4 separate regions of the Homo sapiens genome follow, and regions 1, 2 and 4 are each linked to region 3. Evidence: fine-mapped expression QTL. A gene starts in region 3. Each other region holds a variant in brackets. All regions are shown on one strand. Distances are between the middles of the regions.

The links. PIP is the estimated chance that this variant, and not a neighbour inherited with it, causes the effect.
Region 1: its variant is the best candidate, but not a certain one, in a credible set for the expression of LHX9 in lung (TOPMed, PIP 0.60).
Region 2: its variant is the best candidate, but not a certain one, in a credible set for the expression of LHX9 in liver (GTEx, PIP 0.75).
Region 4: its variant is the best candidate, but not a certain one, in a credible set for the expression of LHX9 in lung (TOPMed, PIP 0.51).

The regions. Positions count from the first base shown.
Region 1 is chr1:197,941,801-197,944,492 of GRCh38, forward strand. No RefSeq gene overlaps it. Among named protein-coding and RNA genes, the nearest start is that of LHX9, 26 kb to the left of the region's middle. The variant T/G (reference allele first, on the strand shown) is at 1,270.
Region 2 is chr1:197,965,613-197,968,304 of GRCh38, forward strand. No RefSeq gene overlaps it. Among named protein-coding and RNA genes, the nearest start is that of LHX9, 50 kb to the left of the region's middle. The variant A/G (reference allele first, on the strand shown) is at 1,173.
Region 3 is chr1:197,916,336-197,919,027 of GRCh38, forward strand. LHX9 (LIM homeobox 9) reads left to right here and starts at 1,037. Exons shown (of 5, transcript NM_020204.3): 1 at 1,037-1,662. The coding sequence starts at 1,489. RefSeq lists an enhancer at 1,608-2,334.
Region 4 is chr1:198,092,989-198,095,680 of GRCh38, forward strand. No RefSeq gene overlaps it. Among named protein-coding and RNA genes, the nearest start is that of NEK7, 63 kb to the right of the region's middle. The variant G/A (reference allele first, on the strand shown) is at 1,395.

The sequences.
Region 1 (2,692 bases), 25 kb after region 3:
ATGAAGAGCTACTGCTGGCACTTACCATTCTTCATAATGTAAGTCAAGGGAAAGGCAATGACGTGGACCCAGCAGGACTTGTTCAAGTCTTACTTTCCTTCTCTGAGACCAGTAAGTGCTATGTGGGGTTATCCTCTCGAGAATGGAAGTCAGAGTGCTAACTATTTTCATCCTATTCTGTAGCAAGCAACACCCAGCATCATTATGAATTTCTCATAGGGAGAGCATTCCAGGGACCAGTCCTGGTGCTTTGATTGGGAAGGATAAAATCTTTTTGCCCTGAATATTTTAGTTATGTTACTGTAGTAGTTCTTTCCATTTTGTAAGAACAGTTACCACCATAGAGTTTCAGGAGGCACACTTGAAAGGAATTAAGAGACTCAAAGGAGCATTGAACAAGTCACTAATGATGACCGCAAAATCACTACTACTGAATCATAACGCCTTTCATTAATGACAAAGGCATTTAATTGTACTGTTCACTTGTCTATCCTTCAGTTCTGAGTCTTGGTTTGAGTAAGAATGTGTATTGCTCTGAGCAGACTTTCTTATGTATTCATAAGGCAAAATCTCACATTTCAATAAGCATAAATATTTCTTTGGTGCCAGATTAGTGTTAAACTACATTTTCTTCTGTTGCTGGTATCAAGCATATCTGGCTAAACATGACCTGAAACCAACAGCATTACCTTATCAATATATAAACTCAGAGCAGAAATAAATTCTGCACGTTAGTTAAAGCATGGCATCAAATCCTTTTTTTTTTTTTTTTTTTTTTTTTTTTTTTTTTTTTTTTTTTTTGAGATAGAGTCTCGCTCTGTTGGGTAGTGGTGCAATCTCTGCTCACTGCAACTTCTGCCTCCTGGATTCAAGTGATTCTCCTGCCTCAGCCTCCCAAGTAGCTGGGATTATAGGCACCCACCACCATGCCTGGCTAATTTTTGTATATTTAGTAGAGACGGGGTTTCTCACCATGTTGGCCAGGTGACCAGGCTGGTCTTGAATTCCTGACCTCAAATTATCTGCCTGCTTTGGCCTCCCAAAGTGCTGGGATTACAGGCGTGAGCCACTGGGCCCAGGCGGCATCAAATCTTTGAGGTGTTCACAGCATAGCTGGGAAGGGTTTGCCATGCTTCCATGGCTGCATCATCCTGGTTGAGAATTGCTTTGTAAAAGAAGGAGGTGTATGCTGTTTTCTCCCCAGGAGCCTACAGCTCACTGGTGTTTATTATTTTTCAAGGTTGGTTGTAGATTTTGTATTTTTTACAT[T/G]AGAAAATAGGTATTAAACTCCTCTACCAAATTGATGCTAAGTCCTTATTAAGTATGAACTATTTGAAGTGCACAATGACCAATAATTGGCTATCTCTACATTAATAAAATACATATGGCCTTTAGATAAGTGTACATAGATGTTACTAGCAGGGAGATTAATGAACATTGAATGAACTTTGAAATAAGAGGCTCTGGAACACTTTTTCCTTTTGAGGCAGGTGAACTTCTAAAATTGATCAGGCTTGCAGATGAAAATATTTTATATCGCTTATTCTCAAATTCTTCTTTTAAGTAACAAACATTGCTCATTGAACTTTTCCATAAAACTGAATTTATAAATCAGATAAGAGTAAAGCTATTCTGGTGGAGAGAAGAGAGCACTGGAAAAAAAAAAATAAAAGCCGTGGTTCCACCATTCTGTCTCCAACACCTTAAGCCTTGCCATGGAGTCTGGAAACTTCTAAGTGAACACTTTGGAAACCACAATTTTAGATCCAAACATAAAATCCTGTCAAAGACTTTGATATATAAAGGAACAAAAGTGATACTCTTGTGGCAGTCAATTATATGGGGAAAATGTAAACATGACAAAATAAAGCTGTAACCTCAAGTGAATCATTTGAACAGTGTTGGCATTGGAGAGGCCGCCCTAACTCAGCTTCCAAAACTTACTTGATCTGAAGGTTTATCTCGAGGGCTTGCTAAAAAAAAAGCCGGGGGGTGGGGGGTTTCTGGCCCTCACTCTCCCCGATATAAGACTCCTGAAATCATTTTCTTTTTCTTCATAAATATACCCCAAGTGATCAGTCAACTTTGGGAAAACATTGGATCAGATGCTCTTTACTTTCAGCACTAACGTTTTGATGATTCCATTCAATTCCTTGAGTTTTTCCCTAACCTGTGGGACAGGAACATTTTTCCTCAAATTAGTAAGGGTAGAGCAGCTCTGAAAAGCAGGAATTGAAACATGATGGAGTAATGGCAGTTACACAAAGGTGTCTCATTCTCAGAGAACTTGCCCAGACAGCTGTCAGGAGACTTTTAGAAAGTGGCAAAAACTAGGGTGTACAATAGAAGGCAGTGCTTGGAGTTCAGCAAAAGCTATTAAAGTGTTTCATGAGTTTTTTTAGGGTAAAATAATTTCTGAATAATAACATACATATCTCTGCATCTTTCCAGGCCTGGTCTATCTTGGGGTACCAGAGGGCATCATATAACTTCAGACACCCAACTTCCACGGTTCTCTTAGACCCCCTACTGGAAACATGTTAAAGTCCCTAGGGATGTTTCAAACATACTCATGCATCTGTTGAGTACATAATAGGAGGTGATTTCATGTTCTCCCCTTCAGCTCTGTTTTCCCCTGGATGTCTTCCTCTCATAAAGCTGTGTAAGGGTGCCTTTTAAGAGAATGTACCAT
Region 2 (2,692 bases), 49 kb after region 3:
AAGCAGGAAATTAATTCTGCCTCAGGGATGGGAATGAGAGGGCACTACACAGAGGAAATGAGAAGTGATGAGTAAGGTGAGTCCTAAAGTATAAGTAGGACACAAGCAAAGGAAAGGGGATGGGAAAGAGAAATATCATATTAGGCAGCAGCAAGAGGCCTGGAGGCAAGAAAATACAGGGCTTGTTACAGAAGGAATTGAGGGATGTTGCTGGAGCAACCAGAAGGTGCTACTGCGGGCCTGGAAAATAAGGCCAGGCAGTCAGACTGGGACCAGATTTTGAAGAACCTTTTGTGCCTGGAATTTGGATGTTGCTGGCAATGGAGATCCATGGAGAGTTTTGAGCACCATGGTAACATGATTAGCTCAGATGTGTATGCAGACTGGGAGTTGAAGTGAAGCAAAGACTGTGATTTAGAAGAGCAGTTTATAATAATACAGGAAAGAATAAAGGATGAGGGTCTAGTCTAGAAAGTAAACAATGGATATGAAGATTGCTAAAGCAGAATCTAAAGGAAATAAATGGTGGCTGATTAGATGGAACCAGGGAGCCAAGGACGACCTTGTGATTTCCAACTTGGGCAATAGAATGAATGTTGATTTTCTTAACCAATATTGGCAATTTAAGATGAGGAGCATTTTGGTAATGGTGTCTAGTTATTGTTGCTTTTTTTTGACATATTTTATTATCAAATATCTCTTAAAAATTTCTAAGTTGTTAATGTAAGTTCTAATTTGTAGGGTCTAACTTTTTCCCCAATATAACATTTTCTTTTTAATCAAAATACTTCTAGAAACTGATAATTCAATTGATCAGACTTTTATTGAGTATCTACCATCTATTTAACTGCAACAGCTATTCAATCTTTAGAAGAAACAAAGGCAATTGTCATAGCTGAGAATCCTTAGCTGTTCTCTGGCCAACTTGTGATTTTAAAGTAATATTACAATACTTACTCAATGTCTACTTACTAAATACAAAGTCCCTCCTATGTTCTTTGGACTGCACAACTGGTATTTCTCATAATGTCAACTACTTGAAGAAGACTAATTAATTCTTCTTTAGACTACTCATTTTTATGTTCAGAGGATTTTCTTTTCAAACTTACCTAAGAATTTAGCTCCAGTAATTTATTTTTCCCATAGTTATTGGAGTAATCCTGGTTTTGCAA[A/G]CTAGGGTCAACATATAACAAAAACTGGACTTTAGAGACTAGAGGAAAAATTCTGACAATGAGAAAAAGGCACTTCCTTTAATCCTCTACTTTCTGATTTTTGAACTATTTATGGATACTCTGATCTAAGGAAACATTTATTGCAAACATGCAGACTGTATTGATTCAGGAGCCAAACAAAGCAGCATTTGGTGAATAAGATATCTTGTTAACAAGATATCACAGTTCTGTCAAGTGAGCCCAGGCACAGGATTTGAAGATGGAAAAGACTATGTTTGGATGATACAATTTAGGATCATTGCTGATTTATTAAAAAGGGTCCTTTCATGTTCCACAGGTGGAAGAAAGCTAAAGCACAGGCTTCTTGTTTGTGCTGGGTGGCTGCTAACATATGCCATCAGAGCAGGTGGACTGGCAGGATCAGAGACAGACCAGGGGAAGGCAGTGGCAGGCCAGTGTGCCCTTCCCTCCCCAGGAATTTGAAAAATTTTACTTTGATGACCTCTAACTATGACTATAGTCCTTGTCTCTTCCAAATGTGGGGATACTTTTTTAGCTTCTGTGTGTGTGCGTGTGTGGGATAAGGGTCAGTAGTCATTCTTTCTTTTCTGACCTATATGGTAAACAGAACAACAGTGATATTTATTGCATTCTTGGACTGACAATCCATGAGGTTCAGAGAAAAAAAGCTAAGGTCTTAGAACATTTTTGAAAAGTTTTATTGACATATAGTTAATATATCATATAGTTCATTCACTTAAAGTATACAATTTAATGGCTTGTAGTATACTGACAGATATGTACAACCATTACCACCTTCAATTTTAGAACACTTTGACCACATCAAAATACAATATGTATCCTTTAGCTATCAGCACCTTGTTCTGTCTACTCCCATCTCCCAGTCCCTAAGCAACCACTATTCTACTTTCTGACTCTATAAATGTGTCTATTCTGGACATTTCATATAAATGGCATCATATAATATGTAGTCTTTTGTAACTGGCTTATTTCACTTAATACATTTTCAAGGTTGAGCTGTGTTGTGGCATGTATCAGTATTTAATTCCTTTTTATAGCTGATTATTATTACATTGTATGATTCTGCCACATTTTGTTTAGCCATTCACCAGGTAACACACAATTGGGTGGTTTCAACTTTTTGCCTGATACAAATAATGCTACTATCACATTTGTGAACAAATTTCTGTGTGGACATTTGTTTTTCATTTCTCTAGGGTGTATACCTAGGAGTGGAATTGCTGGATCATATCTTTCTTTAACTATTTGAGAAAATGCCAAAGTTTTCCAAAGCAGCTGCAATATTTTACATTTCCACTAACAATTTATAAGCATTCCAATTTCTCCACATTCTCTGCAGCACTTGCTCTAATCTGACTTTTGGATTATAGCCATTCTAGTGGATATGAAGAAGTTATCTTATTGAGGTTTTGATTTGTATTTCCCTAATTACTAATGATAACAAGCATCATTTCATGTGCTTATTATTTGTGTATCTT
Region 3 (2,692 bases):
CAAAGAGTCCCTTTCACACCCTTCTGAGTGTGCGGGTGCGCCCAGTTTTACAAGTCCTCTGTCCTGCCAGGGTAGTGGGAGAAGCACGCGATGGGGCTAGCGCCCAGTCCTGCGGGGGCAGGCGCCAAGCTCCCGGGAGTCCGCAAGTCGCTTCCTATATTGGCAAGCTTCAAATGAGACATTAGAATCTCCGGCAACCTTCCTTCAAACCTGAACCGGGGAAGAGAATAAGCCGCCCTATGGCCAAGGCGCAATTGCGTACCCGTGTGTACAGGTCCATGCCCTGTCCCCTACACTCTAATTTTCTCAAAGAAAATTGTTTTGCCAAAAGTAACCCTGAGAAATGCAGACGCTCCAAACGCCCTCTCCACTTCGGATGAAGCCAGCATCTAGTAGGGTCTCCGGCCCTCAAGAAGGTGAGGCAAAGAGATGAATTGTCAGACAGCTGCTTTTAAAAGTGGATTGAGGAAGATGGGATGGGGAGGAGAGGAACCAGCATTATCTCCACCTCAGTAAATTGCTTACATTTCTGCTCAATATTTATGCATTTCGGGTGACAGTCCTGCAGGCTGGGGATGAAAAAGTCCACAAGGAGGAAATCCAAAGTTTGAAGTTGATATTCTCTGTGTCCTGAGCCAAGGTCTGATCTTGAACTCGGATCAAATAGGCGGGTTCTAGGCCTTCTGCAACAGGGCGGGGACAACAAGAGCTCCTTTTCCCCTTTAAAACATGACTGCTGGGAACTCTTGGAAGGATGTGTGTGTGTGTGTGTGTGTGTGTGCGCGCGCGCGCGCGTGTGTGTGTTTTGTGGGGAGGTAAATGCCCCCTCCTCCTGCCTCCCCGCTCTCTATCCCCCCACCCCTTTGTAATGTTTGTCCTGCTTGCCCATCACCAGGGGGTTGAGAGGAGTATGACAGGTCTTTGTTGTCTGAATAAAAATCCGTGGCAGCTCCGGGGAGAGAACTCCTCCTACTAAATTATCAAAAATGGGCTGGCTTTAGTCTCTTAACAAATTGGACACAGCTCAGGCAGGAGCAGTCCCCAACCCAATCTACAGGCACTGGGAACTTGCAAGCAGCCAGGGAACGCTGAAAATAGCACGTCTTTTTCTTTCTTTGTGTTCAAAACTATTTTCTTTCTTCACCAGATTTTGTTTTCCTCCCCCCGCTGCAGTTGTTTCCCATTAGTAACTCGATCTCTCAGAGCAGTAAGATTCGCCTTCTACGCCTCTTTTTCCCTCCGCCCGAATTGTTTGTTTTCTGCACATCTCCTTCAGGGAGCCGCTGAGGCTTCCCCCCAACTCTTCCCAGTTCTTTTTGCTTCCCCTCGGCCCCCCAAGCAGACCGATTTCCACTCCATCTGTTTCTTCTCCTCCTTTCTCTCCCTCTTTCCCTCCATCCTCGAGCGTCTCTGCGCTCCTACAGGGCAGCCCTCTCTGGTCCCTTGCCTCCTTCACTCGGATGAGCTGAAAGCCCCGGGCGTGTGTATATGGAAATAGTGGGGTGCCGAGCAGAAGACAACTCGTGTCCTTTCCGCCCCCCAGCCATGCTCTTTCACGGGATCTCCGGAGGCCACATCCAAGGCATCATGGAGGAGATGGAGCGCAGATCCAAGACTGAGGCCCGTCTGGCCAAAGGCGCCCAGCTCAACGGCCGCGACGCGGTAAGGAAGGGCTCCGCCGCGGCGGTAGCCGGGCACCCCTGCGCCCTCTGTTAAACCAAGCCGACTCCCTGGCCGGTGGAGAACCGGAGCGGCGGGTCGTAGAGACGTCCGCTTGAGGGTGGCGGGTGAGTTTTCTCCCGTCCACCTATGCCTACAGGGCTAAGAAACGGTCGTTTTTCTGAATCGAAATGTCTGCAGCTGGCTATCCTCCGTCGCAGCTGATTCCGAAAGAGCAGGGAGAGGAACTGGGAGGAGGTGGGATGGGGGGTGGTGGCATTCTCTTCTACAGACCTCAAGGTTCCCTTGATTCCGGGGCAGGCGTCTCCCCGGCGAGGATCCGCAGCTCCGAGGGCAAGCTGGGCATAAGCAATAGGAGGACGGCGCGCTGCCGAGGCGTCCGAGCCAAGCAGGAGCCCAGGTGGCCTTAGTCTCTGGGCCTGATGACCGGACCTGTGGAGTAGATTCCGACGCGACTGGGTCATTTCCAGTTCTCTAGACGCTCGGGGCTTGGGACCCCTAACCGAGAGAATCTCAGGGTTTCTGGCATCCCGACTCAGTCCCTCTAAGGAGACAGCACTACGTTTAGCGCCAGGACCCGGCGGGTGTCATGTGTAGGGGGAAATCAAATAAAACATACGGAGGAGCGCGGCACCCAGTCGAAACGCATGAACTTTATAACCAACCCTTAAACAAGCTAATCAACCACCACTGTTTCTACTATCCATAATAATAAAGTCATGTCCTCTTAATAAAGAAAACTAATTACTTATCTAAGCGCTTCCCTTTCCAGATTACTAACGGGGGGGGGGGGGGACTACAGAAGTCTCCGGAAATTATTTCGGCCAAACATAGCTGTGTAGATCCTTTGGTACCACAGTAGGACTTGTAGCCCAAACTAATCAGGAGACTGCTCTAGCCCTTATCAGCTGGGTTTTGGGTCCGGCCAAGTAGCCCAACTGGTGAACGTGTCTATATTTGTAACACTCATTCAGTGCCGGGGCCCCTGGTCGGAGTAAAGGGCTAAACTTTA
Region 4 (2,692 bases), 180 kb after region 3:
GATCCCTGCTATATACATTTTAAAATAGAGAAATTATAATGAATAACAATCTCATTGAAAACAGCAAGCAAAATGATAAAAATATTACAAACTTTATTTAAAGAGAATATGTAAGACGTAGAGAAGAAATTTACTGGGGGACATGAAAGAAACTTCAAGTGAGTAAAGAATAAAATCTTGCTTTGATTATGAAGGTTCTATATTGTAAAAATGTCAGATTCTCTTTAATTATAGACTCAAGGGAGTCTCTATTTAAATATTTACATGATTTTTAAAATATCTCTTAGCATTTTTAATTCCTGTACGTTATTGTCATATGCATATACTATAGTCAGGCTTCTATTAATAAAAGCTTTGATGTTGTTACCTTTTTTAGCTACCACTAATAATTTCGGCAATAAATATGCTTGTACATGCTGGAAAAATCATGAAAGTAAATCCACAGACCAAATTGCCAGAAGTGGGATTACTGGATCAAACATTATGTCATTTTTAATGTTGATGAGGTTGTAAAGAGCTGCCTAAGAATGTCTTTACTTCACATTTTTTCTAGAACTGGGTGACATCAGTTTTTAAAAATATTTCTGATGTGTGAAAAATTATATATATTAGGTTTTTAATTGTTAATATCTGATATTATGAGAGAAGGGAGTTTTTTTCCTTATGCTTACTCATTGTCTTAGTCTTTGGGCTGCTATAACACAACACCGTAGACTGACTATGTTTATAAACAACAGAAGTTCATTTCTCAGTTCTAGAGGCAGGATAGTCCATGATCAAAGTGCCAGCAGATGTGATGTCTGATGAGGACCTGTTTCCTGGTTCACAGATGGTGACTTCTTGCTGTGTCCTCAGATGTAGAAGAGGTGAATGAGCTTCCTTGGGCTATTTTATAAAGGCACTAATCCCATTCATGAAGGCTCCACCCTCATGACTTAATCACTTCCCAAAGGCCCCACCTCCTAATATCATCATTTTGGGGGTTAGGATTTCAACATATGAATTTTGTCGGAATACAAATATTCAAGCCATAACATTGATCATAGGTATTTTTTTCTAAACTGCTTATGTCCTATTTTTGTTTATTTGATTGCTTCTCACTTTCTCATTGGTTTATGTGATCTCTTTATGAGTTATGAAAACTATCTCTCTGCAATTATCCTTGCAAATCAGGTTATGATTTTCCAGTGTGTATAAAGAAATTACATATTTATTTTCTATATGAGTTTGAGGCTCTGGGTACTTCTCAGAAATATCTAAGTATTTAAATATCCAACCCTTTATATCAATCAGGACTCTGAAAAAAAAATCACCTTTCATGAGGCTTTTCCTAATCACCTATCTAAAATAGGTAGTATATACTCCAGTAGGTAAACAAGGAAACTGAGTGTCAG[G/A]AAGGATAAATATCTGACTCAAGGTCACACAGCTAGTAGGTAAGAGAACCTGGAGCCAGAATTTAAGTTCAACATTGTCTGACTTCAAAGCCAATATTGCTATATTATCCTGTCCCATCCTGGCCTTCTCCATCTCACCTGGATAGAAATATAAAATTTTAGGTTTGGAAGAGATTTTTCCATACAGGGTCTTAAAAGATAGATCACGAGGGACATACCGATTCTTGGTGATAGATATTTCATGCTCTTCAGTTTAACCGACAGTTACCTCTATTAGAGAAGTTCTCAGAATTATTTGTGTGATTATCTATATGATGTATAGAATCTGTTACTTTTACATGCATTAAGATACTCATTTTAGTACCCTTCCCAGATGTTAAACATTATTATATGCAATTATTATTATTTGCATTAAGAAGGTTATAATTCCTAGCTGGATTTAATAATTAATTCCCATAAGTATAGTATTTATTATTCAGAACATTATGTAGAAGCAGAACCATCACTTTCAGTAATTAAGAGTTTCTATGAAACTCTTTTGGAATGAATTTTCAGATTTAGTAAAAACAAAAGGCTGATAAATGGCATATTCCTGCTAAATGTCATGAAAACAAAATATATGCTTTCTGTCAGTAAATCAAAATTACTGGCAGCTCAAGAAGAATGCATAATCAGAAGAGCTGGTAACATAATGTTAACTAATTCTTCATATTCGAGTTATTTAAGATGAATTATTAATCTTTACTGACCATAGAAATGATACTATTAGAATTGAAAGGTTGAGGCTTAAAGGTTCTACTTAGCAGGTCTAATTTATGTTCCCATAATTTAACAGTTAATTGTTGAGTATGGATGAGCATGTTATAACCCTGTATTAGCTCCTATTTTGGATAAAATCATGTGAGAATGAGGATTTGCTTACTTAGGAAAAGGCAAATTATATTTACTGCTGTTACTCATCCAATGTCAGTTTTAAATTCCTTCCTTCAAATTATTAGGATATAGTTTTTTTGGGTTTCACAGGTTATTATGACATATAAGTTTCCTGCATTATTATTCAACAAATATTTATGAACCCCTAAACACTGAAGTAAATGTTGAAGAGAATGTGGTTGATGAAGAAGACATAGTCCTTGCTCTTGAAGGGAGTGGGAGAGAGCTAATATAACCTGAATGTTATCTGCCATCTCAGTTTCTTGTTCTGCACCCCTAAAATTAATCTGTCCTTTCCCTTCACTATCTGGATACAGAATTCAGAATCTTTTCACATTCTCCACACAGGAGCAACTTTCACAAAA